7 linked regions of the Homo sapiens genome follow. The protein of the gene in region 7 interacts with the protein of the main gene of each other region in a biochemical or structural test. Each region holds a gene or a part of one and is shown on either strand. Other genes may lie near its edges.

Evidence for each region.
Region 1: the proteins of ITCH (region 7) and UBE2O form a complex in vitro, tested with the Homo sapiens proteins (one study listed by BioGRID).
Region 2: the proteins of ITCH (region 7) and MLANA form a complex in vitro, tested with the Homo sapiens proteins (2 studies listed by BioGRID and IntAct, with this or other methods).
Region 3: the proteins of ITCH (region 7) and CPSF7 form a complex in vitro, tested with the Homo sapiens proteins (one study listed by BioGRID).
Region 4: the proteins of ITCH (region 7) and NDFIP1 form a complex in vitro, tested with the Homo sapiens proteins (2 studies listed by BioGRID).
Region 5: of the proteins of ITCH (region 7) and SIK1, one has a biochemical effect on the other in vitro, tested with the Homo sapiens proteins (one study listed by BioGRID).
Region 6: of the proteins of ITCH (region 7) and POU5F1, one has a biochemical effect on the other in vitro, tested with the Homo sapiens proteins (2 studies listed by BioGRID).

The regions. Positions count from the first base shown.
Region 1 is NC_000017.11:76,400,990-76,404,904, forward strand, and holds part of UBE2O ((E3-independent) E2 ubiquitin-conjugating enzyme), read right to left. Parts: intron 1,711-3,915; coding exon 1,613-1,710; intron 1,139-1,612; coding exon 1,075-1,138; intron 166-1,074; coding exon 22-165; intron 1-21. UniProt on the Homo sapiens protein: E2/E3 hybrid ubiquitin-protein ligase that displays both E2 and E3 ligase activities and mediates monoubiquitination of target proteins. Negatively regulates TRAF6-mediated NF-kappa-B activation independently of its E2 activity.
Region 2 is NC_000009.12:5,904,135-5,908,049, forward strand, and holds part of MLANA (melanoma antigen recognized by T-cells 1), read left to right. Parts: intron 1-2,750; coding exon 2,751-2,864; intron 2,865-3,915. UniProt on the Homo sapiens protein: Involved in melanosome biogenesis by ensuring the stability of GPR143. Plays a vital role in the expression, stability, trafficking, and processing of melanocyte protein PMEL, which is critical to the formation of stage II melanosomes.
Region 3 is NC_000011.10:61,412,655-61,416,569, forward strand, and holds part of CPSF7 (cleavage and polyadenylation specificity factor subunit 7), read right to left. Parts: intron 3,866-3,915; coding exon 3,451-3,865; intron 3,131-3,450; coding exon 3,012-3,130; intron 1-3,011.
Region 4 is NC_000005.10:142,111,694-142,115,608, reverse strand, and holds part of NDFIP1 (NEDD4 family-interacting protein 1), read right to left. Parts: intron 1-3,915. UniProt on the Homo sapiens protein: Activates HECT domain-containing E3 ubiquitin-protein ligases, including NEDD4 and ITCH, and consequently modulates the stability of their targets. As a result, controls many cellular processes.
Region 5 is NC_000021.9:43,424,024-43,428,390, forward strand, and holds the start of SIK1 (serine/threonine-protein kinase SIK1), read right to left. Parts: upstream 3,109-4,367; 5' UTR 2,987-3,108; intron 2,170-2,986; 5' UTR 2,156-2,169; coding exon 2,000-2,155; intron 1,501-1,999; coding exon 1,384-1,500; intron 1-1,383. UniProt on the Homo sapiens protein: Serine/threonine-protein kinase involved in various processes such as cell cycle regulation, gluconeogenesis and lipogenesis regulation, muscle growth and differentiation and tumor suppression. Phosphorylates HDAC4, HDAC5, PPME1, SREBF1, CRTC1/TORC1.
Region 6 is NC_000006.12:31,167,513-31,171,932, reverse strand, and holds the start of POU5F1 (POU domain, class 5, transcription factor 1), read left to right. Parts: upstream 1-1,250; 5' UTR 1,251-1,312; coding exon 1,313-1,717; intron 1,718-4,420. UniProt on the Homo sapiens protein: Transcription factor that binds to the octamer motif (5'-ATTTGCAT-3'). Forms a trimeric complex with SOX2 or SOX15 on DNA and controls the expression of a number of genes involved in embryonic development such as YES1, FGF4, UTF1 and ZFP206.
Region 7 is NC_000020.11:34,509,101-34,512,516, forward strand, and holds the end of ITCH (E3 ubiquitin-protein ligase Itchy homolog), read left to right. Parts: 3' UTR 1-2,673; downstream 2,674-3,416. UniProt on the Homo sapiens protein: Acts as an Acts as an E3 ubiquitin-protein ligase which accepts ubiquitin from an E2 ubiquitin-conjugating enzyme in the form of a thioester and then directly transfers the ubiquitin to targeted substrates.

The sequences.
Region 1 (3,915 bases), on a different chromosome or scaffold from region 7:
TACCCTTGGGCCCGGACCCACCTCTTCCACCACCACTCGGAACTTGCTCTTGGTGCTGAGCACGGGCTTGACACCTGACAGCCACTGGACGCTGGAGAAGATCTTGGCAGGGCCAATGAGCACCTGGCCTGGGTAGAAGCCATAGGAATCATCGAAGAAGAGACCCTGCGGGATGTGGGGCCAAAGGAAAGTCCCCGTGAGCGGTGTCTCCATGGGTGACCATGCTCTCCACGCCTGTGCCCGCTGGCTGCCCACCTGCAGAAGCCCACTCACACACACGCCCCACACGCCCTAAAACAAGTCCTGTGGCTCCACATCAGCACTTCCCAAACCCTGGGTCCGCAGAGGTCATCTGGCGCCCTTGTTCAAACATAGGTGATGCATTCCATGCTCCTTGGTCAAGGGCTCATACTCTGAGGAATAAGACTCCAGAGAGCAGTGGTCCTGAAACCTGTTTGCTCACGCACCCCCTGTATATCTACTTGTTTGCTGTGTGTGTCCATGTACTATTGTAACTAACACATCATCCTGTACTGAGAGAGACAAAGTGGAACCTTAAAGGATGAGAAAAAAAAGCTACCAAAAATGCAAATAAAAGTTCTAATACTGCCGGGCGCGGTGGCTCACGCCTGTAATCCCAGCACTTTGGGAGGCTGTGGGCAGATCACCCGAGGTCAAGAGTTCGAGACCAGCCTGGCCAACATGGTGAAACCTCATCTCCACTAAAAATACAAAAATTAGACGGGTGTGGTGGCACACGCCTGTAATCCCAGCTACTCGGGAGGCTGAGGCCAAAGAATCACTTGAACCCGGGAGGTGGAGGTTGCAGTGAGCCGAGATCGCACCGTTGCACTCCAGCCTGGGCGACAGTGAGACTCTGTCTCAAAAAAAAAAAAAAAAAAAAAAGTTCTAATACTTTCTGCCTATACCCAAACTTTTAGACCCTCTGGCGCGCACCCGCCCCTTTTCTAGGAAACCGCTCTGTTTAGCTGGGTCCAGGTCTTTGCTACGAAGTCCTCCTTCCAGAGGACTGAGCAATCAGAGAAGGGTGCTGGCCTGGATGGAGCACACTACCGAGTCGCTGACGTGCGGGCAGACGTCGTAGAGCTTGGCGCCATCTTCCGTGTTCATGGAGCACCTAAAACAGAGAACAGAGGTTTGGTCTCCACCAGGGGACACAGTGAGTACCAAAAAGTTGCGATTCTGAGATGCCAATGCGCCCACATGCCCTAAATAGCACAATTCGTCTTCTACCATCAACTCAGCCCGAGGTAGTACAAGAAACTCTCCCACAACGAACAAGACCCCAAGTGCCACTGGAGTGCTTGCTCAGCACCATCACAGTGCCTCAAGTAAAGCATCAGCCTCTAGCAGATATCCTCAGTGAAAACGTTTCTCCCCATGCCAGGACAGATCAGAAACTGAGCAACAGAAATAGGCCACGGCAGATAAGGAGAACGGTACAGGGTTAGGCCCTGGATGCCTGCAACATCTGTCACTGCCCTTGATCAAACCTGTCATCACTGTCCCCAGGAGGAAACACCCTCCTCCTCCCCTCTTTCCAAGAGGCTATCCTTCCCAAGCCGATGGCTCTCTGGTGGTGAGACTCTACCTGGCGCCGTTGGATAGCTTCAGGATGATCTGGTTCTTCAAGTCGTAGACCTTCCCCAGCCAGCAGTCATAGGCAATGTAGTCCCCATACATGAAGGGCTGCAGACCAAGGAGGCAGGGGCAGTGAGACACAGCAGACAACGTTCATGTCCAGGGCACAGATTCCTCTATGCCCCACCGAAGACAGGATGGGGGAGGATCTAGACAGCTCACTGACTGGACCGGTTGGCTACTAGCCCTAAACAGCTGCTGCAGCAGGCCCTCCCTACAAGTTCTAGGCTGCATCCCAGCTGCTCTTCCCAGTGAGGAGGAAGTGGTGGTGGTGGTGGGGCTGCCTGGAGGGAACGGGGTGGGTGATGCAGGGGCAGAGAGGCCTGATGGCATCCATGGACATGGGACATCCATGGACACAGGACACCTGGCAAAGTAGGCTGTGGAGGTGGCAGGCAGAGGAGGCAGCCACACCACTGGGGGGTGGCTACATGGACAGTGCTCTGAGTAAATACGTTAACACATCAAGGATATCGAGAGCCAAGTCCCTCATTGTTGGAGAAGGTGCCCAGGTGTTTACTAACAGAAAGGGAGCAGGAAGGAGAAGAAGGAAGAGGAGTCTGAGGTGTTTAGGTGGAAGTGGATCTATCAGGATGAACTCATATATTTTATTTTACTTTATTATTATTTTTTTTAGAGACAGGGTCTTGCTCTATTGCCCAGGCTGGAGTGCAATGGTGTGATCTTGGCTTAATGCAACCTCCATCTTTGGGCTCAAGCGACTCTCCCACCTCAGTCTTCTGAGTAGCTGGGACTACAGGCATGCATCACCGTGCCTGGCCAATTTTTTCATATATTTTGGTTGAGATGGGGTTTCGCCATGTTGCCCAAGCTGGTCTTAAACTCTTGAGCTCAAGTGATCCATCTGCCTCAGCCTCTCAAAGTGTTGGGATTACAGGGGTGAGCCACTGCGCCCGTGAACTCTGCCTGAACTCATATATTTTAATATACACATAGAGCAGGTAGTGACATATTTAGATGTGTGTATACATATAATACATATGTATTTCCTAGTGTGTCCCAAAAGAGCCAAGTAGCAATTAGCACACCTAGCATCCAGATCTTGGGTTTTAAAAATACCATTCTCTGAAAACAATGAGGCTTCTTGGAGAAATGGTTGATTCTGGGGCTGGATCACAAAAAGTACAAGATGAGCCTGGCACATCTCATGCCAGAAAGAAAGAAAGTTCTTAAAAAACCAACAAAAAGGGCCATGTGAGAAGGACATGAAAGCCAGCTTGAAGGGGTTCCCACTGGCTAAATCTGGGACCATCCAAGCAACAGAACAGATAATAGTAGTAATTAATTATAACCAATGAATAAAACAGAAATCTCTAAGTCCATACTGATAAAAAAAAAGAATACATAAATAGGGCAGAAGATAAAGCTCTTCTACAGAGCAGAATGCCAGCTAAAAGAAATGAGGGGAACAAGGGAGTCATAGAACCACCATTTAGCAACATCAGAGCAATGGCTGGCGCAGGGGGAACTGTGAATGGAGGCCAAAGCTGGTGGATTTCAGTTTGACAAATGACAGGTTATAGACATAATCTGGGACTACGTTCCCACAAAATACAATCACTTAAAGGGGGTAAATGGTGAGTTTATGGTGGAGAGACCTGGTGGACACCAACATGACCAGGGGTAAAAGTGAACAACCCCAGCACTTTGGCTATGGGGTACCATGAACCAGGGCAGAGCTCTGCGGCGGGCCTGCCAAGAACACGTGGGCATGAGGCAACACCAGGAAGACCCAGGCTGAGGGTCAAATTACTGAATGTATCACTGTTCAGGGCATGGAAGACAAAGAAAGGCTGGGAAGCGATTCCAGATTGGAGAGAAAATGAAGAGATGACAACTCAATGCAAGATGTGTTCCTGAATTGGGTCCTGGATCCGCAAAGAAGAAAAGAGTAGTGTTGGGACAACTGCATGTGGTCTGTGGACTGGACAGTAATTATCAACGTTGATTTCCCAATCTGGGGGTTATATGGTGGTTGCACAGGAGGCTGTCCTCATTTTTGGAAAACACACAAGAGGTGTGTGTATTCCGGGGTGGGTGACAGGGCATCACATCTATAGCTTGCTGTCAAATGTTTTGGGAAGAAAAAAGACCGGAGGGGGATCTCGGGGAAAAGGAGGGAGGGAAGGTGATGGAGCAAACGAAGTGAAATCTTAACAGCTGAGGAACCTGGATGGAGGGACACAGGAATTTACAACTTTTGGTAAGTTTGAAATCATTAAAAAAATAAAC
Region 2 (3,915 bases), on a different chromosome or scaffold from region 7:
AGGTGTGAGCCACCATGCCTGGCCTCTATCCACTTACTTTTAATGTACATGTATGTGTCTTTATATTTAAAGAGGGTTTCTTGTAGAGAACACATAGTTGGGTCTTGTTTGTTGATCCACTCTGACAATCTGTCTTTTAATTGGTGCATTTAGACCATTGATATTCAAAGTAGTTATTGATATAGTTGGATTGATATCTACCATATTGTTACTGTTTTCTACCTGTTGCCTCTGTTCTTTGTTTCTATTTTTGTCTTTACTCTTTTTCTGCCTTTTGTGATTTTCACTGGACATTTTATATGATTCCATTTTCTCTCCTTTCTTGGCATATCAGTTATACTTTTTTCTTTTTGAGACAGAATCTCACTCACTCTGTCGCCCAGGCTGGAGTGCAGTGGCACGATCTCAGCTCACTGCCACCTCTGCCTCCCAGGTTCAAGTGATTCTCCTGTCTCAGCCTCCTGAGTAGCTGAGATTAAAGGTGCATACTACTATGCTCATCTAATTTTTGTATTTTTAGTAGAGACGGGGTTTCATCATGTTGGCCAGGCTGGAACTCGACCTCAAGTGATCCACCCACTTGGCCTCCCAAAGTGCTAGGATTACAGGCGTGAGCCACCGCGCCCAGTCCAGTTACACTTCTTTTTTTTTTTTTTTGAGACGGAGTCTCACTCCGTTGCCCAGGCTGGAGTGCAGTGGTATGATCTGGGCTCACTGCAAGCTCTGCCTCCTGGGTTCATGCCATTCTCCTGACTCAGCCTCCCAAGTAGCTGGGACTACAGGTGCCCGCTACCATGCCTGGCTAATTTTTTGTATTTATAGTAGAGATGTCATTTCACTGTGTTAGCCAGGATGGTCTCAATCTCCTGACCTCGTGATCCACACGCCTTGACCTCCCAAAGTGCTGCGATTACAGGTGTGAGCCACCGTGCCCGGCCTTATACTTCTTTTTTACTTTTTTTCAGTGGTTTCCCTAGAGTTTGCAACATACATTTACAACTAATTCAAATCCACTTTCAAATAACACTATACCATTTCATAGGCATTATGAGTATCTTAAAATAATCCTAATTCCTTCCTCCTGTAAACTAAAAACAAAATCCTAAATCCTCCAAACAACTGAATGGACCCCCTCTTCACCAAGGGGACCCCAGGGAAACCTGAAAAACTGAGTGTTGGCCATGACGGGAAGGGAGGTGAGAGATGCCTCATTATACTCCCTCCCTTTTAGAGTTTTAGGTACAACTGACCAGCATTAATTTTAAAATAGAGATTACAGGACTGACAGAATGAACTCTTTGTGGCAATATCAAATTAGGAACAAGACAATGCAAGGAAAGGGTTAAATCATGCCCTTCAAACCATAAAAAAATTTTTTTTTAATTAACCCCATATAATGTGGTATACTTTCCAAACTGACTCTGGTATAGCATCACATGACAGATTGCAGACTCCCTTACCTTAAGCATTCCTTTATACTGACTTCAAGTCTTAAGACAGAGCTGAACTCTTTCAACCAGCTGCTAACTAAAGAATACCTAAAACCCACCTGTGACTTGTAAGTCTCTGCTTTGCCATGTCCTGCCTTTTCAGGCTGACCCAATGTATACCTTCCGTGTATTGATTTATGATTTTTACCTACAATTCCTGTCTTCCTGAAACATATAAAACCAAATCATAACCCAACCACCTCAGGCACACTTTCTCAGGACCTCTTGAGACTATTCTCCCGGCCATGGTCATTCATATCGGCACAGAATAAACCTCTTTAAAATATTTTGCAGTTTTTTTCTTTCTGTTAACATTCCTTTCCCTTGTATCATTGCTGTTATTAATTTCAAGTATATATAAGCATACCTAATTAAATACATTGTTGCTATTATTCATTTTTGAACAAACTATTATCTGTTAAATCAACTAAGAATAAGACAAATATGTTGGGTGCAGTGGTGCATGCCTATAGTCTCAGCTACTCAGAGGCTGAGGCAGGAGGATTGCTTGAGCTCAGGAGTTTAAGACCAGCCTAGGCAACTTAGCAAGATCATGTCTCTTAAAAAAAAAAAAAGAAAGAAAGAAAAACAAAGTTTTAGGAGGCTGAGGCAGGAGTATCACTTGAACCCAGGACGCAGAGGTTGCAGTGAGCCGAGATCGTGCCATTATACTCCAGCCTGGGCAACAGAGTGAGACTCTGTCTCAAAAAAAAAAAAAGAAAAGAAAAGAAAAGAAAAAAAAAGTTTTTATTTTACCTTCACTTATTCCTTCTTGGATGTTCTTCCTTTATGTAGGTACAAGGTTCTGACCTATGTTATTTTCTTTTTCTCTAAAGAACTTCAAAAGTTTCCTGCAAGGCAGGTCTACTGGCAATGAATTCCCTCAATTTTTGCTTGACAAAGTCTTTATTTCTGCTTCACTATTGATGGATAATTTCACAAGAGTGTTCCTTTTGTAGATTCACTCTTCTTATCCTTCCCTTCAGAAATATTCTTTGACCAACTATTGGGTCCCAGGTACTGCACTAGAGCTTTACTTCTAGTTAATTCCCACAGCAATTCTGAGAGGTAGGTAGGTATTATATTCCTAGATGCAAACTCAGAATTCAGAAGGTAAAGTGATGAGACTGAAGGCACACAGCAAGTAAGTGGCAGAACCTAGATTAAAACTCATTCTTAAAACTTTGGCTTCCTTCTCTTTTCTTTAATGGATTCAGTTACTTCTTCTCACCCACTCACCTTTATCAATTTACATTTCAGGATAAAAGTCTTCATGTTGGCACTCAATGTGCCTTAACAAGAAGATGCCCACAAGAAGGGTTTGATCATCGGGACAGCAAAGTGTCTCTTCAAGAGAAAAACTGTGAACCTGTGGTAGGTTAAGATCCTTCATAAGGGTATTTTCATGAATGGCTGTTTTTAACTCAAGTGAATACAATTATTTCCATTTAAAAAGCAAGGACAATGTGAATGTACTCATTGCCACTGAACTATATACACCTAAAAATGGTTAAAATGGCAACTTTTATGTGTATTTTATGAGAATAAAAAATAAATAATAATAAAAAACAAGGGAAGTACAGATATTTTCTTAATTGTGTTGTCACATACCCAGTGTTTCCAGGGTCAATAATGAGAGCCCTACATGTAAGATTCAAAGGAAGAATTTAGTCCTGGATACAATATTCTTTTATGTTTTTAGTTATATTTGCCTTTTTAATGGATGCAGATATATACAGAGGGAAGGGATAAAGTACCTATTATTTATTGTATAGAGCTGTGCTGTCTGATGGCTTAGCCACTAGTCACATGGTGCTATTGAACACTTAAAACACAGGAGTTTGAAATAAGATGTATTATAATACATATCATATTTCAAAAATATTAGTATGTAGAAAAGAAGATAAATGGTTCATTAATGATTTTTATATTGATTCACCTTGAAATAAATATTCTGAAAATATTAGGTTAAACAAAATATTTTAAGATTAATTTTACATGTTTCTTCTTTTAAATGTAGCTACTAGAAATTTTAAAATTACATATGGCTGGGCATGGTGGCTCACACCTGTAATCCCAGCACTTCGGGAGGCCGAGGTGGGTGGATCACCTGATCTCAGGAGCTCGAGACCAGCCTGGCAAACATGGTGAAATCCTATCTTTACTAAAAATACAAAAATTAGCCAAGCGTGGTGGTGCATGCCTGTAATCCCAGCTACTTGGGACGCTGAGGCAGGAGAATCACTTGAACCCGGGAGGTGGAGGTTGCAGTGAGCCGAGATAGTGCCACTGCACTCCAGCCTGGGAGACAAGAGCAAAACTCCATCTCAAAAATAAATAAATAAAATAAAATTACATAAGTGGCTTGTACCATATTTCTATTGGACAGCACTAGTACATATACAACACAGCATAATGGTTGAGA
Region 3 (3,915 bases), on a different chromosome or scaffold from region 7:
ATTACATTATTAATGTACTATTAACAATTAAAAAAGCAGGAGGTAAACCTGTATGTAAACAAAGTAATCCATGTAAAGCCCTTAGCACAGTGCCAGGCACACAGTAAGGATCAATAAATGTTATGTTATATGTTGATATAATAGGTGTCCAGAATATACTAATTGAAACAAGCAAGTTTCAAAACCATATCCTGTTTTTGTAAAAACAATAAAAATTATATAAATTGTCATATGCATAGAAAAAATTCTGGAGGAATATAAACTATAAAAGGTGGTCTTATTGGTTGATGGTCCTTGTATAGAGGACTATTTTGTTTTTGAGATGGGTCTTGTTTTATCATCCAGGCTGAAGAGCAGTGGTATGATCATAGCTCACTGCATCCTTGAACTCCTGGGCTCAAGCCATCCTCCTGCATGCCACTTCACCTGGCTTATTTTTCAAAAATTTTTTGTAGAGATGGGGTCTCACTATGTTGACCAGGCTGGTCTTGAATTCCTGGCCTCAAGTGATCCTCCTGCCTGGGCCTCCTAAAGTGCTGGGATTATAGGTATGAGCCACTGTACCTCATGAGACTTTCTAAATAATGTGTATTTCTACAAGTTATTTTTAACCTACCATCAGATGTATGTGTGTATATATATGATATTTACATAAAACATGTATGCGTAGTATATGTATACATTAAAAAAATTATGGCTGGATGCAGTGGCTCACACTTGTAATCCCAGCACTTTGGGAGGCCGAGGTGGGCGGATCACTTGAAGCCAGAGTTCGAGACCAGCCTGGCCAAAATGGTGAAACCCGGTCTCTACTAAAAATACAAAAACTAGCTAGGCAGTGTGGCATGCACCTGTAATGCCAGTTATTTGGGGGGCTGAGGCAGGAGAATTGCTTAAATCTGGGAGGGAGAGGTTGCAGTGAGTCGGGATCAGACCACTGCACTACTCCAGCTTGGGCAATAGAGCCAGACTTCGTCTCAAAAAAAAAAAAAAAAAATTTATGCTGTCATAAAAAACTAGGCCTTTCATTTCCCAACTCTGAGTAATGCCTGGCTCAGGGATAGTGGTCATGGGGCGGGTACCTACACTTTGCTTTTCCAAGCTAAGTCAAGAGCATTAAGGACAAAAGTTAATACAAAGAAAATATGAATTCAGGCAGGGGTCCAGTGAAAATGAAGCCTGGCAGCTTCCTCTGTGCAAGGCAACAAGAACAGAAACTATGGAGAAACTGTCCAGTGGAGGCACAAGAATATGAAGACATCAGCTCCATCCTGGCAGGGAATTTTTGCCTGTTTTTGTAGTATCTTCAATAAGTATTTGTGGTTTGAATGACTGGAATGAGAACAACAGGAGATCAAGATTCAGTTATTGATCATCTTAGTGTGAAAGGGTTGATGAGGAAGAAGGAACAATGAGTACTTTCTTTATACTGTTCTGTGTATTTAACCCATATAACCCATGGGTATATATTACTTTTTAATTTAAAAAGACTAATTTTTTTTTTTTTTTTTTTGAGACACAGTTTCACTCTGTTACCCAGGCTGGAGTGCAGTGGCACAATCTCGGCTCACCACAACCTCCACGCCCTGGGTTCAAGCAATTCTCAATTCTCGTGCCTCAGCCTCCCAAGTAGCTGGGTCTATAGGCATGTGCCACCATGCCTGGCTTATTTTTGTATTATTAGTAGAGATGGGGTTTTGCCATGCTGGTCTCAAACTCCTGACCTCAAGTGATTTACCGGCCTTGGCCTCCCAAAGTGCTGGGACTACAGGCATGAGCCACTGCACCTGGCCTAAAAAAGACTAATTTAGATGTCAATGTAGATTTTTCTGGTGGGAAAAAAATGAAGGGAACATATGTACTTTCTGTCTTTAACCTTCTCTGTGGATTCAAGTTTGGCAAGATGATGCAAAGATGAAAACTGATGGAAAGCAGATGATAATATTTAGGGCTAACTTATTTCTTAGGAGATCTGATAATCTACAGACATTTACATTCATGTAGGAAACTCACAGGAAGGAAGTGAATATGGCTAATGTCACGATGTGAAAACCGGACCAGAACTCTGAAACTTCCTGTAGCCTCTTCTTTTAGAAACTAAAGATCTTATGCTCAGGGCTTTCAGAATCATGGCTGCTGGTTCTACCCACTTAATAATGAGAGCAGGGCAAAAGTTAGCTGTAAGGGCATAACATGCCTTAAGATGACATCTACAGACTTGCCTCTTTTTAGGATAGGCTACCTACCAGCTCTGCTTAGACTCCTAAATGTAATCAGATTTCATAGCAAACCATTATCTAGGCTGGACGTGGTGGCTCACACCTGTAATCCTAGCACTTTGGGAGGCCGAGACAGGCGGATCACTTGTGGTCAGGAGTTCAAGACCATCCTGGCCAATATGATGAAACCCTGTCTCTACAAAAAAATACAAAAATTAGCCGGGCGTGGTGGCAAGTGCCTGTAATCCCAGCTACTTGGGAGGCTGAGGCAGGAGAATCGCTTGAAACCAGGAGGTGGAGGCTGTAGTGAGCCAAGATTGCACCACTGCACTCCAGCCTGGGCGACAGGGCAAGACTCCCTCTCAAAACAAACAAACAAAAAAACACATTATCCAGTCAAAACATCATTCCTAAAGAAGACCCAGGGTCTATATCTGGTATTGGGTCTACTACACAGACACTAGATCTAAAGATCAACCACTGAGATGGAGATTTCCACAAGGCAGGAATTTCACTCTACAGCAAACACCACATCGAGATGGTATTAATTATTTATATTCTAGGCATTAAGTTGGTTTTCATGAGGGCAGGCCTAGATACAGACTAAGTAATACTGCCGGAGCTTCCCCAAGGCCAAGAAATCAGGTTACATATTGCTCTTCAAAGTATGCCGCTCTTGATATCTACAGTACTCCAACTTTATCTTGTTGAACTTTTGCCAGTAGAAATGACAAAATCAGGAAAAAAAAGTAAAGGTTAAGGAGAAGGCAGCAAAGGTAAGCACTGAGTTACCTGCACTGGCTCCAGATACTGCTTTGGAAATGGCACTGCTGGAAATTGCTCTGTTTCGCTTCATGATATCTTCAAATTCGGCTTCACTCACTGTAGAGGGTGGAGGGCCCGAATCTCGGCTGTACAGAGAAAATACCATCCTTGATTGCTCACATCCCTTATTATTTTTACTGTACTCTACAACACTTTGGTAATTTTGGCATAACACAGAACAATGCTAGACATCTGTAGCATTCATAACACCTGCTCCCGCATTTAATTAAGCACCTTAAAAAGGGGTATAAAGGACATGGTACTACTTCCCAGGAGTCAATGCTATGATAACAGAATGTCTATAAGGGAAAGAACAAGGATTCAGTGCTCACTTTCTCAGGGAGAATAAAATGCTTAATACACTTATTTACCCTGGCTCAAATCTGAAAGGAACAATAGTCCTTACCTGCCATGGTGGTTATAGGGGGCAGAGGCCTTCATGTAAGTATCTGGTGGAGGCCCCACTGTAGCGTTTGGTGGGGGGAAGAAGGCTGGATTGAGGTGAAGGGCAGGTGGGATGGCCCCAGGGGGAGGTACAGCAAGATGAGGAGGTAATCGAGGAGGTGGGGGCATGAGATGCTGGTAGTGGATACCAGGAGGAGGAGGAGGGACCCCAAAGCTTGAGGAGAGAGGTGGTGGGGGTGGAATTGGTGGTGGGGGCAGACCCATCAGGGGAAGGGCCGAAGGAGGACGATTGAAGTAGGGCAGCACACTGGGGGGCTTATCCACACGAGCAGATGAGGGTACAAGGTTCTCAGAGGGTGTGGCCCGTCCATCAGCAGAATCACTAGAATCTCGGGAATGGGCCCGTGGAGGTATTCCTATGAAGCAAAACAGAACTGATGTTACTGCCCAGGCTTTACACAAACCC
Region 4 (3,915 bases), on a different chromosome or scaffold from region 7:
ATTGTCCATTATTATAAGAATATAGGCCGGGCGCAGTGGCTCACACCTGTAATCCCAGCACTTTGGGAGACCGAGGCGGGCAGATCACTTGAGGTCAGGAGTTCAAGACCAGCCTGGCCAACATGGTGAAACCCCATCTCTACGAAAAATACAAAAAATTAGCTGGGCGTGGTGGTGGGCACCTGTAATCCCAGCTACTCAGGAGGCTGAGGCAGGAGAATCGCTTGAACCTGGGAGGCGGAGGTTGCAGTGAGCCGAGATCGCGCCATTGCCTTCCAGCCTGAGCAAGAAGAAAGACACTCCATCTCAAAACAAACAAACAAAAAAGAATATAATTCTTCTAAGCTGTTGTACTTGCTTAAAGGTAAAACAAGAACATTTTAAGAAACCAAAATAATTATTTTAAAGCCCTAAAAACAAATAAATCTGAGGATGTCACTTGAATCTCTTGGAGACTTTTTTTCTTTCTTAATAAAAATATGAAGTTATTCTCATGGTAGGATTTACTTTATAATCTACCATAAAATTATGAAATATAATTAATGTCTAGGATAAAACAATTTGAAGTTATGTGCAGTTAAACTACTGGTGGCATCAGCTTAGAGCAAAATTCCCTAGAGCAGTTCAACTGGGCCTTGGTTTCTGCCCAAACCAGGAAGCACTGCCCTATTTTCAGGACACAGATAGTATGATTAAGCCAAATAAATCTTGCCTAACAAGTGGTCACCCATGGGATCAGGTAAGAAAACAAGGATAGATTAACAGGAATCTATCACTGCTACAAAAACAAAGCATGAGGCTTGGCAAGAGTGAGCCCAATCAATACAAAGGACAGTTAGTTATGGATCCACAGCCCGACACTGACAAATCCTGTTTCCATACTCCTCACAGATTACAAGAGAGCTCTCATGATATATTCCTCATGTGATATCTTCTTGAAATATCATACCATTTGTTTTCTTTTAGCGTTACACATAGAAATATTTATCAATATATGATTTCTAGGATTCGTTTCAAAATAATGTGGTGAGTATAAGTGAAATAATATTGGCCATTCATTCACAATTGCTGAAGCTGGGTGATGGTACATAAAATTTCTTACACTACTTTATTATTGTATGTGTTTGAAATTTCCATAGTAAAAAGTTGAAAATGTAAACATCATGAAGAAATTACTCCTACAACTCGACAACAAAAAACTCAATTCAAAAATGAACAAAGAACATGAATACACATTTTCTCTAAAGAAAATATCAATGGCCAATAAGCACATGAAAAGATGCTCAACATCGCTAATTATTAGGGAAATAGGGATCAATACTGCAATGAGATACCACTTCACACCCATTAGATGGCTACTATCAAAAAAACAAAAACAAAAAAGAGAACATAACAAGTATGTTGAGGATATGGAGAAATTGGAATCCTTATGCATTGTTGGTGGGAAAATAAAATGGTGAAGCTGCCATGGAAAACAGTATGGGAGTTTCTCGAAAACTTAAAAATAGAATTGCCGTATGACCCAGCAATTCCATTTCTGGGTATATCCAAAAGAACTGAAAGCAGGGACTTGAAAGATATTTGTAGACTCATGTTTTTTATAGCAGCATTACTCACAATGACCAAAAGGTAGAAGCAAACCAAGCATCCGTCAACAAATGAATGCATAAACAAAATGTGGTACATATATAAAATGGACTATTATTCAGCCTTAAAGAGGCAGGAAATTCTGACACATGCTACAACATGGATGAACTCTGAAGACATTATGCTAAGTGACATATGCCAGTCACAAAAGGACAAATCCTGTCTAATTCCACTTATGAGAGGTACCTACGGTAGTCAAATACATAGAAAGTAGAATGGTGGCTTCCAGGGGCTGGAGGAGGGGGAATGGAGAGTTATTGTTTAATGGATATGGAGTTTCAGTTCTGCAAGGTGACAAAGTTCTGGAGATGGACTGGTTCCACAACAATGTGAATGTACTTAATGCCACTAAACTGTATACTTAAAAGTGGTTAACATGGTAAATTTTATGTGTATTTTACCACAATTAAAGTTTTCAAAGGAATAATTTACCCATCTTCCTAATATTTTTATAAATTTTCTTTGATCACTGACCATGTAGGCCACAAATACAGCATATAACTTAAGAAACTTTGACATTTAGGTTATGTTGGCATTCTGTGATATAACTTCTTTTGAAACTGAAAAATAAGCAAAAAAGCCACATAAGCACTATTCATTCCTTCCTCCAGGATCATTACTTCATCTAATAATTTAACATGAATATGGTTTGACCTATCAGAGATGAAATTCTTATGCTCATCAAAATATTCCTCCATAATCCTGAGAGAATTTATCCAAAAGTATACCATTCCAAAATCTGCACTATAATGTCATCAAACTATCATACAGAGTATTGGTGATGCTCACAAGTGGGCAACTTCTTTAGCAGGTAATGAGGCAAGTCCAGAACTAAACATTCTGTAATCTGTTTGAACCTACATGGCAGTGTCATCATCACCCACTTACATTGAATTCAAATCCAAGTATCCCAAAATACTTGAAATGAATTGGCAAAATTCATGCACACATCTACCGCAGAAGATCTGCGTTCATCTATGGATGAACGGGAGTTAACGTCCTCAGAGAGAGAAACACGCAACAGGTTTCTCAGCACTCAGTATGGGCCTACTTAGGTCTTTCTAAAATAGTGCTTCCATACTGTCTGAGACAGTCTCAGTTTCAAAAGGCAAAAATGAAAAAAAAAATAAAATAATGCCAGGGGAACCTATAAGCCTAGCCTCTTTTTTTTTTTTTTGGACAGAGTCTCACTTCGTCGCCCAGCCTGGAGTGCAGTGGCGCGATCTCGGCTCACTGCAATCTTCACCTCCCGGGTTTCTCCTGCCTCAGCCTCCCGAGTAGCTGGGACTACTACAGGCACGTGCCACCACGCCCAACTAATTTTTTGTATTTTTAGTAGAGATGGGGTTTCACCATGTTAGCCAGGATGGTCTCGATCTCCTGACCTTGTGATCCGCCCACCTCGGTGCCTTTTTTTTTTTTTTTTTTTAAGACAGTCTTGCTCACCCAACCTGGAGTACAGTGGCGCGATCCCAGCCTACTGCAAACTCTGCCTCCTGGGTTCAAGTGATTTTCCTGCCTCAGCCTCCCAAGTAGCTGGAGTTACAGATGTGCACCACCACACCGTGCTTTTTTTTTTAAACAGAGTCTTGCTCTGTCGCCAGGCAGGAGTGCAGTGGCACGATCTCAGTTCACTGAAACATCTGCCTCCCAGGTTCAAGCGATTCTCCTGCCTCAGCCTCCTGAGTAGCTGGGACTACAGGTGCACGCCACCACGCCCAGCTAATTTTTGTATTTTTAATAGAGATGGGGTTTCACATGTTGGCCAGGATGGTCTCAATCTCTTGACCTCGTGATCTTTGTGATCTGCCTGCCTTGGCCTCCCAAAGTGCTGGGATTACAGGCATGAGCCACCTTGCCTGGCCATTTTTTGTTTTGTTTTGTTTTGGTTTTTTTTGAGACAGTCCCACTCTGTCACCCAGGCTGGGGTTCAGTGGCACAATCTTGGCTCACTGCAACTTCTGCCTCCCAGGTTCAAGCAATTCTCCTGCCTCAGCCTCCCAAGTAGCTGGGATTACAGGTGAGTGCCACCACACCTGGCTAATTTTTGTATTTTTAGTAGAGGCAAGGTTTTGCCATGTTGGCCAGGCTGGTCTCGAACTCCTGACCTCAAGTGATCCGCCCACCTCGGCCTCCCAAAGTGCTGTGATTACAGGTGTGAGCCACCACACCTGGTTGAGCCTACCCTTTCTGCATAGTCTGTCACTATGCTAAATTCAAGTTGTCCACATATTACACTACCAATAAAAAGACCATAAAGACAAAACT
Region 5 (4,367 bases), on a different chromosome or scaffold from region 7:
TTAGCATCAAAACCAGAGGAGTAAAAGTCATTGCTACACCACTGAATTCTATCATCTCCCAACAGTTAAGAATCACATACAGCAGCAGTAAGAAAATGCACCTCCAGAAAAGACCTCAGCAGCAAACACATGGGCAATTTGTTTCTTTAACGGAGCTAATTCCACACAATGGGCAAAGGAGAAGAACAGGAAGAAAAGGAAGGTACTACCATTAGGGTTCAGCCCTTGAGCAAAGTCAAAAACAAAACCAGCTCAGCCCACTCCTGAGGAAATGGGCTGGGCACGCTGCACAGGCAGTACACCAGTGGCCATGGAGCACACAACTTAAAAATGACAACAGAAACAAAACACAAACCAGGCGCACACGGCATGAATTCTGTGCTTAAAGACACTGAGCAAACTGTCGTAAGCTCCACCAATACTGCTACTTTTATTTTCAATCTAGTGCAGAGGCTTTTGGGGGATAATTTCGAATCATAATTCTCTCTCCTACCACACTGTACACCGAGCTGTCCTAATTGCACAAACACACACAACAACATCCCAGAGTCATCTCACATTCCATTTCATAAGAATCATTACGAGGAACTTCAACCCAACACAAATGGATGAAATAGCACCTGCAAAGAACTTCTTCTGCAAGAAGACTTGATTTCACCTTGCAAAAGTGGTCATTTGTCATTAGGGAGGTGTAAATGATTGCTTTGCTGTTCTAATTAAATTAGTACTTATTTCCTGATGATATAATTTATTAATTTCAACATGAGAACAAAAATTAAGTCACAAAATAAACCAACAGAGAGACAGGGCAAGCCATGTTCCTAGCATGGATTAAATGACAAGCTCCTTGCTCTTACTATGGAAAAGTATTTTCATCTCTCCGTTTTTCATGGAAGAGTTTAAATAGGGAAAACAAATGCTCACTACTGTCCTTGCAAAAATAAACTAATGAAAACCAGTAAGAGCAGCTGGCTTTAAAGTTTAATAATTATCTGCAAAGGCAGAAGTTTCCAGTTTCACTCAAATTTGTCCTTTTATACTAAATGCGTGACCTGTGGCAATACCTACAGATAAGTTTGTCTGTTTTCATAGTAAAGCAAATTTACAACAGACTTCTACACATTTAAAACTGGATCAGGTTAGGATACTAAATAAAATTCTAATGAAGCAAATCTCAATTATGATCCAAAAGCAATAAAATAATTGTAAATATATCTGCACAGCCTATAAAAATCAATCTATTTACCTTATACAACCAAATGCCCAACTTCCACACACTCCCCAAAAGGGAAGCCACCTTCAGAAATTGCAGACTTATGCTGTTGGAAATAAAATATAACACATTTGCCAGGATTAGCAGAGAAAGGCAAGCTGACCCCTTACCTGGTAAAGCTTTATGATGTGTGGATGGTTCAGAAGCTTCATCAGCTGAACCTCACGATAGATTTTCTCCAAATTGCTTGAATCTAATCGTGTTTTATCAATTATTTTTATTGCAACCTACAAATTTAAAAAGAAAAAGGATATTCTGTGGGTTTTTTTAAAAAAAGAAAAGAAACCCTCAACCTAATTTACACATTTCATTTTTTGCAAGTTAATTTCTCAACACTCTGTCTCCAGAAGGTCACAAGAAGTTGGGAAAACATAACCAAAGTAACCACTAATGTTATTTAAAATAATCAGAGTTAAGTAAGTGACTTAAGTATTTGCAGGCTCACTTTACAGGGTTTAGCTCTGAGTCCATGAACCACTGCAATCTTAGGTTGGTCCTTTTTTTTGCTATTATCCTCTCTGCTTTCTCCCAATATATGTCCAAATTATGCAGCAACATAATATAAAGCATTATTTTTCTTTACCGAACTAAAAACGGTTACTATTTACCCACCACGACAATCAAGCCTGGAGCAGTGAATCTGCATGGGGTCCACCCGCCAAAGGTCGGGTCGCCCCGGGTCCAGTGGGGAGGCCCCGCCGGCTGGGTCCCACCGCCCCCACGCACCTGCGTTTTGGTGACTCGATGCCGCGCCAGCTTCACCACCGCGAAGTTGCCTTTGCCCAGGGTCCGCTCGATGTCGTAAAAACCCACCCGGAGGGGCTTCTGCTGGCCCTGACCCTGGCCCGCGGGGTCCGCGCTGAACTCCGACATGATAACCATGGCTCCGCGCGCACCTGCGGGGCCGCACAGAGCTCAGAGCCCACCAGCGCCCCCGCCGCCCGCGGTCGGCTCCATCCGTGCCCGCGGAGCCCCCAGTCCCCACGGGACGCAGGGACCTGCTCCCACGCCTGTCGCCCCCACTCTATCCACGGGCCCCTCCAGCCCCGTGGGAGGTGTGGACCCGCCCCCGCCGCCCGCTCCACCCGGACCCCCGACCCTCTTGAGCCCCGCGGGGCGCACGGACCCGCTCTCATAGAGGCCCCTGCCGCCCGAGTCCGGTTCCGTCCCGATCCCGGGACCCCCTGAGCCGGGATTCCACACTCGCCTCCCGCCGCCCGCTGTCGGTTCCGTCCCCACCCTCGACCCCTTTAGCACCTCTGGGCGCGGACCCGCTCCCACACCTGGCCCTGCCACCCGAGGTCGGCTCGATCCGGATCCCAGGACCGTCCCCTGCCCCGCTCCCACACCCTGCCCCCGCCGCCCGCGATCCGTCCGGTCCCCACCCCCGACATCCCAGGCACCTCGGGGATCGCGGACCCGCCCCCCACACCCGGTATCTCCGCCCGCGGTCGGCTCCAACCTGACCCCCGGCTCCCCAGCCCCTGAGCCCCGCGGACTCACTCCTACCCCGGCCCCCCAACAAAGGGGAGCCCGAGGGCGGCCAGGCCGCCAACCCCGCCCGCGAACCCCGCGCGCGCAAGGCCAGGGACCCTGCGCGGTGGCTGCAACCCCGAGCCCCGGCCCGGCGCCCGCGCGGAGCCCCCACGGCGGCCACCTCCGCCCGCCCGGAGCCCGCCGCTGCCGCCGCTGCCGCCGCTGCCGCCGCCTCACCTCCGCCGCCACCGGAGCGCCCAGGCCAGGAAGCCGCCCGCTCGGCCGCTGGCGCTGCTCGGGTGCCTACTGCTCCGGCTGCCGCCGCCGCTGCTGCTGCCTCCGGGGCCGCGCCGCATGTCAGCCCGGAGCCGCCGCGCTCCGCCGCACGCGGCGCCCGGCCCCGCCCCGGCCCGCCCCGGCCCGCCCCCCGTAGTCCCCGCCCCCTGCCCCGCCCCCGCCGCCCGGGCGGGGGCCGCCCATTGACGTCGCTTTGACGCCAGAGCGACGCGCGGCCGAGCGCCGGGCGGAGGGAGAGCGGGAGATCGGGCGGTTGCCAAGAGACTGGCGGCTCTGACGCGCGCGGGATGAGGCCGTTGCCCTGGCGACCGCGGGCCGGTGACGTCAGGGGCGCCCGCCGCCCGAGGCCCGCCCGCCTGCGCTCCGCCGGGCGCCCCCTCCCGGGCGCTGGGGGCACTGCGGGCGGCCCCACCGCCGAGGGCGCGCCCGCCCCTCCACGCTCGGGCACTCGGGCCGGGTCCCGCGGGCGCCTTGTGCTCGCTCCCTCCAGGAGGGGACGGCTCTCGGGCAGGGGTCGCCGGCCCCTCCACGCGGCCTGCGTTCGTCCAGACTCAGAGCCTCGGGACGTGCGGGGGCCCGGGGGCCTCGCGGGCTCGCGCGTGGGGCTGGCGGCGCGGATGCCCTGGGGCGCTGCAGACCCCGAGAGGCCGCTTGCCCGCGGGGACGTCAGCCGCTTTTGCTGTTAAAATCTGAAATGTTCAGCAAGTTAGAAACTTGAAACCTAAGGAAGCGTGACCGGCCGCTCTGGAAGCCCCCGCCGCGCGGCCGGTCCCGGCCCCGGCCCTCAGCGGCGCTGGCGTCTGCGCGTCCCGGGGCTGCCCCCGCAGCATGTGGGGCTGGGACCCTCTTCCCGCGCGGGCCCCGGGCGGACGCTGCGGGCGGTGACGGAGCCAGGCCGGCCGCCTGGGTAGGGGACGGGGGCGCGGGACCACTTGCTTGCCCGTGGCCGATGCCTCATCCGAACGGAAAACGTTTTCTTCAGGGGAGACAGAGGCTGTGGGCGAAGGTATTTTTTAAGCCTGAGGACCCATTTGGGAGTTAGATTCTGGATCGAGCCTAGGGTCAGTTTTCCTTGTGTTAAATAACACTACTTCACAGAAGGGGGAACGAGAATTCAGGGGAGTTGGCACAAAACTTGGAACCCTTCTCGGGAGGCTTTCCTGCCTGGACGGACGCCTGGGAGGAGGGCCCGGAGAAACGAGGATGAGCTTCTCCTCATTCGCCCGAGGGTCTGACCACAGATTTCCCAATCGCCACACACACACACACACACACACACACACACACACACACACGGGTTGTTTGGGAGTCAGTTGGTTTT
Region 6 (4,420 bases), on a different chromosome or scaffold from region 7:
CACACCCCCCACCCCCTGGTTTTCCCCACCCAGGGCCTAGGGCTGGAGGCCTGGGCCAGGGAGGTGGGGGAGGGAGAACGGGGCCTACCGTGGTATTAGATGTCTGAGTTTTGGTTGAGAGGGGAGCAAGGAACCTGATGTGCAGGTTCCATAGTGGAGGGGGCCCAAAGCGGGTGTCTTATCACTCTGTTTCAGCAAAGGTTGGGAAACTGAGGCCCAGTCAGTCCAAAGTCTGGTCCCTTGAAGGGGAAGTAGGGACCAACCCCTTAGTCTGTTAGATGAGGAGAGTCTGGAGTCTGATTCTGGAAGACGGAGGGGTGGGGGGATGGGGGGGTGGGGGGATATAGCACGGAGGCCTTGTCTGGCAGTCTACTCTTGAAGATGGGGTGAAATTTGGCAGGCTGGGCAGATGGTGCCAGGCACCCAGGCTGCGGGGTGGCTGGATTTGGCCAGTATCGGGATGGGAATGCCTAGGATTCTGGATGGATCGGGGGAAGGCATAAGGGAGCAGCTGGCCATTGTGCTTATGGCTGTTGATGCATTGAGGGATAGCGCCACACACACATTCAATAAATTTGAGGAGCTGAGAGGGTGACTGGCCCCTGAAGGCACAGTGCCAGAGGTCTGTGGAGAGGGGGTCAAGCACCTGGGTTCCTGAAGAACATGGAGGTGTGGGAGTGATTCCAGACAGCTGGGATGTGCAGAGCCTGAGAGAGTGCCAGGGAGCGGGTTGGGAGTTGAAAGTTGGGTGTGGTGGCTCACGCCTTTAATCATGACACTGGGCGGCAGAGGCGGGAGGATTTCTTGAGGACAGGAATTCAAGACCAGCCTGGGTAACATAGCAAGGCCCCATCTCTACTAAAAATAAAAAAACTAACAGGGCACAGTGGTCCAAGCCTGTAGTCCCAGCCACTTAGGAGGCTGGAGCAGAAGGATTGCTTTGGCCCAGTAGATCGAGGCTACATTGAGCCATCATTGTACTCCACTGCACTCCAGTCTGGGCAACAAAGTGAGACCCTGTCTTAAAAAATAAAAATAAAAAAAGTTTCTGTGGGGGACCTGCACTGAGGTCCTGGAGGGGCGCCAGTTGTGTCTCCCGGTTTTCCCCTTCCACAGACACCATTGCCACCACCATTAGGCAAACATCCTTCGCCTCAGTTTCTCCCCCCACCTCCCTCTCCTCCACCCATCCAGGGGGCGGGGCCAGAGGTCAAGGCTAGTGGGTGGGACTGGGGAGGGAGAGAGGGGTTGAGTAGTCCCTTCGCAAGCCCTCATTTCACCAGGCCCCCGGCTTGGGGCGCCTTCCTTCCCCATGGCGGGACACCTGGCTTCGGATTTCGCCTTCTCGCCCCCTCCAGGTGGTGGAGGTGATGGGCCAGGGGGGCCGGAGCCGGGCTGGGTTGATCCTCGGACCTGGCTAAGCTTCCAAGGCCCTCCTGGAGGGCCAGGAATCGGGCCGGGGGTTGGGCCAGGCTCTGAGGTGTGGGGGATTCCCCCATGCCCCCCGCCGTATGAGTTCTGTGGGGGGATGGCGTACTGTGGGCCCCAGGTTGGAGTGGGGCTAGTGCCCCAAGGCGGCTTGGAGACCTCTCAGCCTGAGGGCGAAGCAGGAGTCGGGGTGGAGAGCAACTCCGATGGGGCCTCCCCGGAGCCCTGCACCGTCACCCCTGGTGCCGTGAAGCTGGAGAAGGAGAAGCTGGAGCAAAACCCGGAGGAGGCAAGTGAGCTTCGACGGGGTTGGGGTGTGGGGAGGTGGTCATGACAGGGCAGCCTGATGGGGAAGTGGTCACCTGCAGCTGCCCAGACCTGGCACCCAGGAGAGGAGCAGGCAGGGTCAGCTGCCCTGGCCAGGGAGGGGTGTGTATCAACTGCTGGCAGCCCTGGCAGGCAGGGGCCAGGTGGGAAGTGGAAGCTGGATTTCGAAGAGACAACTGCCGGTGAGGGCAGAGCAGCCTGGGAGAGTCGGAAGCTGGCCCAGGCTGGCCTTTGCTCTGGCCCAGCCCTTGTCAGGGTCTCTCACATCTCCTAGGCCTGCCCAGGGTCTGGTCACTCATTACTGGCCCAGCACCAGACCCAGCTTGGGGTTGGTTTGAGCCCCTTTTCCCACCCTTAGTCCTGCTTGAAAATTTGACCCTTATCAGACCCAAGATTTTGGCCTTAGGGTTAAGCATAGCCTGAGGGTAAAAACAGTGCTCATTCCAGGATTATTGTTCCTGAAAGTCTAGGGTGTGACTCGTTTCTGATAGGATCTCCTGTTTGGGCTGTGTGTGTGCGCGTTGTGAGCTGGGTTTACCTCCAGTCAAGTATAGGGCTTGTCTTCCCCGGATCTCTGCCTCAGGCCAATGACTGGCCACTGTGTTAAGGTGCACACCCTGGCACCCCTTGTAGAAAGCTGGATTTTGATTGACTTCAGCCTCAGTTCCAAAGTTGTAAACAAGAAAAATGGTGAGAGATTTCTCCAGGCCATTTGCAAATATAGAGCTGCTGCGGGATTGAAGGCATCCAGCCCTGCTGAGGACTATTAAAGATGTATCTTCCAGTCCTTCAAGGCGACAAGTGTAAGCAATTAGAGATTAAATACTAAGCCTTGAGACCTCACAGAAAGGTGTGACTGGTTTCTGGAGTGACCGAGAAGCCCCAACCTCTTCGCAGGAGGTCACTGCTGAGCCTTGAATGATAATGGCTGGCAATTGTGGTCCACTTCCTAAGTGCCTGGCTGTGTGCTCCGTTTATACATCATTATCTCATTAACCAGCACAAAATCTCCTAGGGGGAGGTATTATTATCCTATTTAACGGGTTTTAACTGCTAAATGATGAAGCGAGGATTTGGACCAGTGTTTATTCCAAAACCCCAAAACAGAATTTGGAAAATCCAAGATAGCAGAGGGCATTTATCAGTTTGAGTTATTGGCTGAGCAGAAGTTGGGGATGAAAACAGCCTATTTGAAATTGATATGATCAAGCACCATTGAAACACTTCCTTGAGGCTTCAGAACTACAAAAAGGCCTTGTTTTTTTCTCACTAGCTGTGCACCTCTGTCTGCCGGCAGCCTCATATGGCATGCCCCAGGGCTCAGTCCTTCAACCTCTGCTCTATCTACCCTTCCTTCCTCTCACCCACCCTCAAGGCTTAAATGCCATTTAGACACCAGATGACTACCGCGTTTTCTGTCTCTTGTGATGGCTCCCTGAACTGCTCCACCCTGATCACCCAGTTGCTCAAGGCCAAACCCAGTCATCCTCAGTTTCTTTCATGTCCTACATCCTATCCTTAAGAAACATCCTGAATCAATCACAACCTAACCCTGGCCTCAGCCACCATCATCTCTGCTGGGATTACCGCAGTAGCTTCTCAAATTATACTGCTTCCTCCCTACTGTCTGTGGCCAACACGTCAACTAGAGTCAGTGTTTTAAAAGGTGTGGCCAGGCACTTTGGGAGGCCGAGGCAGGCGAATCACCTGAGGTCGGGAGTTCGAGTCCAGCCTGACCAACATGGCGAAACCCCATCTCTACTAAAAATACAAAATTAGCTGGGCGTGGTGACGCATGCCTGTAATCTCAGCTACTCAGGAAGCTGAGGCAGGAGAATCGCTTGAACCTGGGAGATGGAGGTTGCGGTGAGCCGAGATCGCGCCAGTGCACTCCAGCCTAGGCAACAAAAGCGAAACTCTCAAAAAAAAAAAAAAAAAAGGTGAGGCTAGGTGCGGTGGTTCACACCTGTAATCCCAGCACTTTGGGAGGCCAAGGTGGACAGATCACTTGAGGTCTCCTGACCAGCCTGGCCAACATGGTGAAACCCCATATCTACTAAAAATACAAAAATTAGCCGGGCATGGTGGTGGGTGCCTGTAGTCCCAGCTACTCAGGCGGCTGAGGCAGAATAGCTTGAACCCAGAAGGCGGAGATTGCAGTGAGCCAAGATCACGCCACAGCACTCCAGCCTGGGCGATAGAACGAGATTCCGTCTTGGTGGGGAGAAAAAGGGTGAGAGATCATTTCGCTTGGACTAAAACAAAGTCACTATGTCTGCAACAGGATCTACCTAGCCACCAGACCAGCTTTGGGCTCTGGAAGGCCCACTTCAGGGCCTTGCCACATTAGACTCTTGTCCTTTGCTCAAACAATCACCTTCTCTGTCTTTAAAAGTGTCACCCTCCTCCATAATCTCCTTCCCTCCTTTACCCTACTCCTATAGACTGCTTTATTTTTTTTTTAATTTTTGAGATGGAGTCTCACTCTGTCCCTCAGGCTGGAGTGCAGTGGTGCGATCTTGGCTCACTGCAAACTCCACCTCCTAGGTTCAAGCAATTCTCCTGCCTCAGCCTCCTGAGTAGCTGGGATTATAGGGGAGCGCCATGATGCCCAGCTAATTTTTGTATTTTTAGTAGAGACAGAGTCTCACTATGTTGACCAGGC
Region 7 (3,416 bases):
TAAAATTTTTAACAGGGTTTCCTTTTTTTCTCACGACTATTTAAGTTTAGATTGCTCCATTATTAACTGATTAATGCACTTTGAAGTTCTCTGGAATTAATTATTTTAACTTGGCCTAGCTTCGACTGTCAAGGTGGCTGTTATAAATTTGACTTCATTGGCAGTGGATGAAGCCTAAGCCAGCTGAGTCTCTATCATAGCTGAACCCTGAGGACAGCCTCATAGCTCATGTATCAGGGACTTTTGCCACATTTCAGAGGCATAGCATGAACAAGTAATATTAAGCCAAGAATAAGCAGCAGAACCCTGTTCCATATGGAAAAAAGAAAAACAATTTTTTGTCCCTAATGTTCTTCCTTTTACATCCTGGAACAACAATAAAAACATTTTTTTAAACTTGTCTACTGTAAGATACTGCCATCATAAAGCAGAGACTTACATGAGTGAAAGGGTTGCCTCATCAAGCAGCTCAGTGTAAATGGGGAGGCTAGGCTCTCCCCAGCCCTATGGTTTTTTTATTTCATGTACCCCAGGAAATACTGTGTGGTTTCTAAAAGCCCTGGTTGTTAAAAGTAGGGACTCTGCCTTTTTGTTGGTAGGGAGAAAAAACGCTATTGCTTTGTCTTACAGAGCGAATGTCTGCCAACTACCCGTTCATTATATAAGTCTGAACTTGGTAATATATGGCTAATGAAGATTAAGCCCTCTATAAAGACTTCCTGTTGAGGTGAATTCTCATACTGAAATGTAGTTACCTACAATATTTACTAGAGATTTATGAAATTAAATTAAGAGATAATGTAAGAAAATACATTTTTTTGGTTCTATATAATGCTTCATGATTCATTTAGGGACCTAGAAATATTGTGTGAAAATATATAAATATCACCCAAAAGGCTTTCTGCCCTATATTTTTAAAATACAGAATAGTTATATTTGAAGTAGCCCTGGCCCTAGTTCTATAGGGCTTGGCTATTTAATATTTTTATGGAAGAAGTGTTTAGTTCTGGAAAAGGTAAATGCTTGTATATATTTTTGCAGCCTGGGATCTCCCTACTCCATTTTTTCCTTTAATTTAAGTGGCCACATGTATATGTCTTCCCTGCTGTGTTAGGAAAATGGGGGCTGGATATCCCAAGAATCAGAGGTTATATAAAAATACTGCAAATAGACCGCAGACATAAATATCTACCAAATGCTATCTTAAATTTTGGTCCAAACTGAACATATGGAAATAGATTTATTGTAAGTATTTACTTAGAGCTTTTTCTTAAATCTGAACTAACTTGCTTTTAGAAGTCTTTTTCTTTGTAAGCATTGTAAATGCTAATAAATCCTGTTAATTTTTTTTTTTTTTTTTTTTTTTTTTTACTGCATGTTACATTGAAATAAAAACAAAGTAAAATGAGCAATTGCCTTATTGTTCTGCTCTTTTGCAGGGGGTGGGGGTTGGGGAAGACAGCATTCCACAGCCTGGTCAGGAGGGAAGGACCTCACTTGTTTCATCAAATGGAGTGGTTTAAAACTGATCAAGCAGCTCATAATAATGAATTCCTGCTCTGTCTTTTATTATCTTATGTCAGAGTGCAGCAAAATCTCATTTCATAAGACTTACAATAACTCTATTTAAAATTCAGGTATTGTACTCGGGAGGCTGAGGTGGGAGGATCCCAGGAGTTCAAATCCTGCCTGGGCAACATAGCAAGACCCTGTCTCTTAAAAAAACAAAAAGACATATTCAGGTACTGATTTTTCATCAAGAGATTGACATACCAATGATCAGAAATTTTAGTGAAACTTGACTCAACTATACACAAAGTTCTCATCCTAAATGAACTATTTCAGTCAAGCCCACTCTACCACTTTTTACTTATCTGGTTAATAATCCGAAATGTTACCGGGGTTGACTCACGGAATTAAATTTTTCCTCTATTTTTATATCCTTTCCTGTTGTGGATGTAACTTACCTTTCTAAACTCCTTTAGAGTTAACGACTTCTATTTAGTATTGTTGGTATCTCCAGCCCCCCTCCTTTTTTTGTTTTTCTTTTAGTTATTTACTTTGTTTGTATAATTTGCTTTCATTAACTAAAAATGGAATTGGCAGCACTGGATTGTATATTACTGTATTAAGAGTACCTTTGTTTTCTTGATCTGTTACTTTTAATACTCAGGTAATGCTACAAATATTACAGGGAGTCAAATGCTTTTATAAAGTTCCTTCAGTGGTTGCCTCACTTGCGTTTTCCTACAAGATGTAAGACTGTTTATAATTAAACTTTTTTGGTCCTTCATTTGCATGCTTTTCTATCAGTCTTGGGTAAGGAGGGGTCTCTTTCCTCTCTCCCCGGCCCCACCTTCTGAGACTTATATGTGACCAGGTCACATAGATTTCTGCCTCTCTGCTTTTTTAAGTGGCAAGTTACAGCCCATCTGGATTGTGGTATTGTTCCCAGACCAAATCAAGGGTTGGACTGCTTATTCTCGCAGCCCAATAATGAGGTGCAGATGAACTGAGAAAGGAGGGAGTTTATTTCTGTAACCAGGTATGGGGAGAAAGCCTGGAAATGATCCCAAGACCAACTCAAAACTACAAAGTTTTCCAGAGCTTATTTACATTATAAGCTATATGTCTACATGTGAGTGTACATTCATCTAAAGACATAAGTGATTCACTTTTTTAAATCTATAAATAAGATCTGAGCCCTGAAGACCTTCCTCTGGAGCCTCAGTAAATTTACTTAATCTAAATGGGTCCAGGTGCTGGGGTGATTACCCTTATCTTGTTTCCTGCTAAATCATGGAGGTTTGGGGACTTCCTTCAGACCCCCAGTAAACTTGTTTGTGGAGGCCTTCAGACCCCCTCAATAAGTTCCTTCAGACCCCCAATAAAACTTGTTTAATCCTAAATGGGTTCCTTTGTTATCTTGTCATGCTTCAAGGCCCAGAAAAGGCCTGGGCAAAACCCTTGGTGGCCTTTTGTTACATTCTAGCCTTTGCATAAGGGCCCTCACTCTTTCAGCTTTTAATATTTAACTTAACCACTCAGTGCTGAAACAGTTGTTATGGAGGCCTGCGTTATTGAGATCTGGCCTGCCACGGTACGGGTAGAAAAAAACTAGAAAGAGCTGTTGCAGATGAGACTGGATTTGGTGCCCATGTTGAAGATGAAGATATCTGCAGGGGCCATCAACCAACATAAAGGCCTCCATATGAATTGCTTTTCTGAGACAACTAAAAGACCGGGACCACAGGCATGAGTGCTGAGTAGAGAACCACCAACTAGCTAGCTGTCAAGACTGTTACCAAGACTGTTCTCAACAAGCTGACCTGGTTACCAGCGTCAGTAGAACTTTGTCTTATTAGGAAGCTCAGGTGATTATGCTCTCATTTAAAACAGAACCAGTGGAGAGAGAC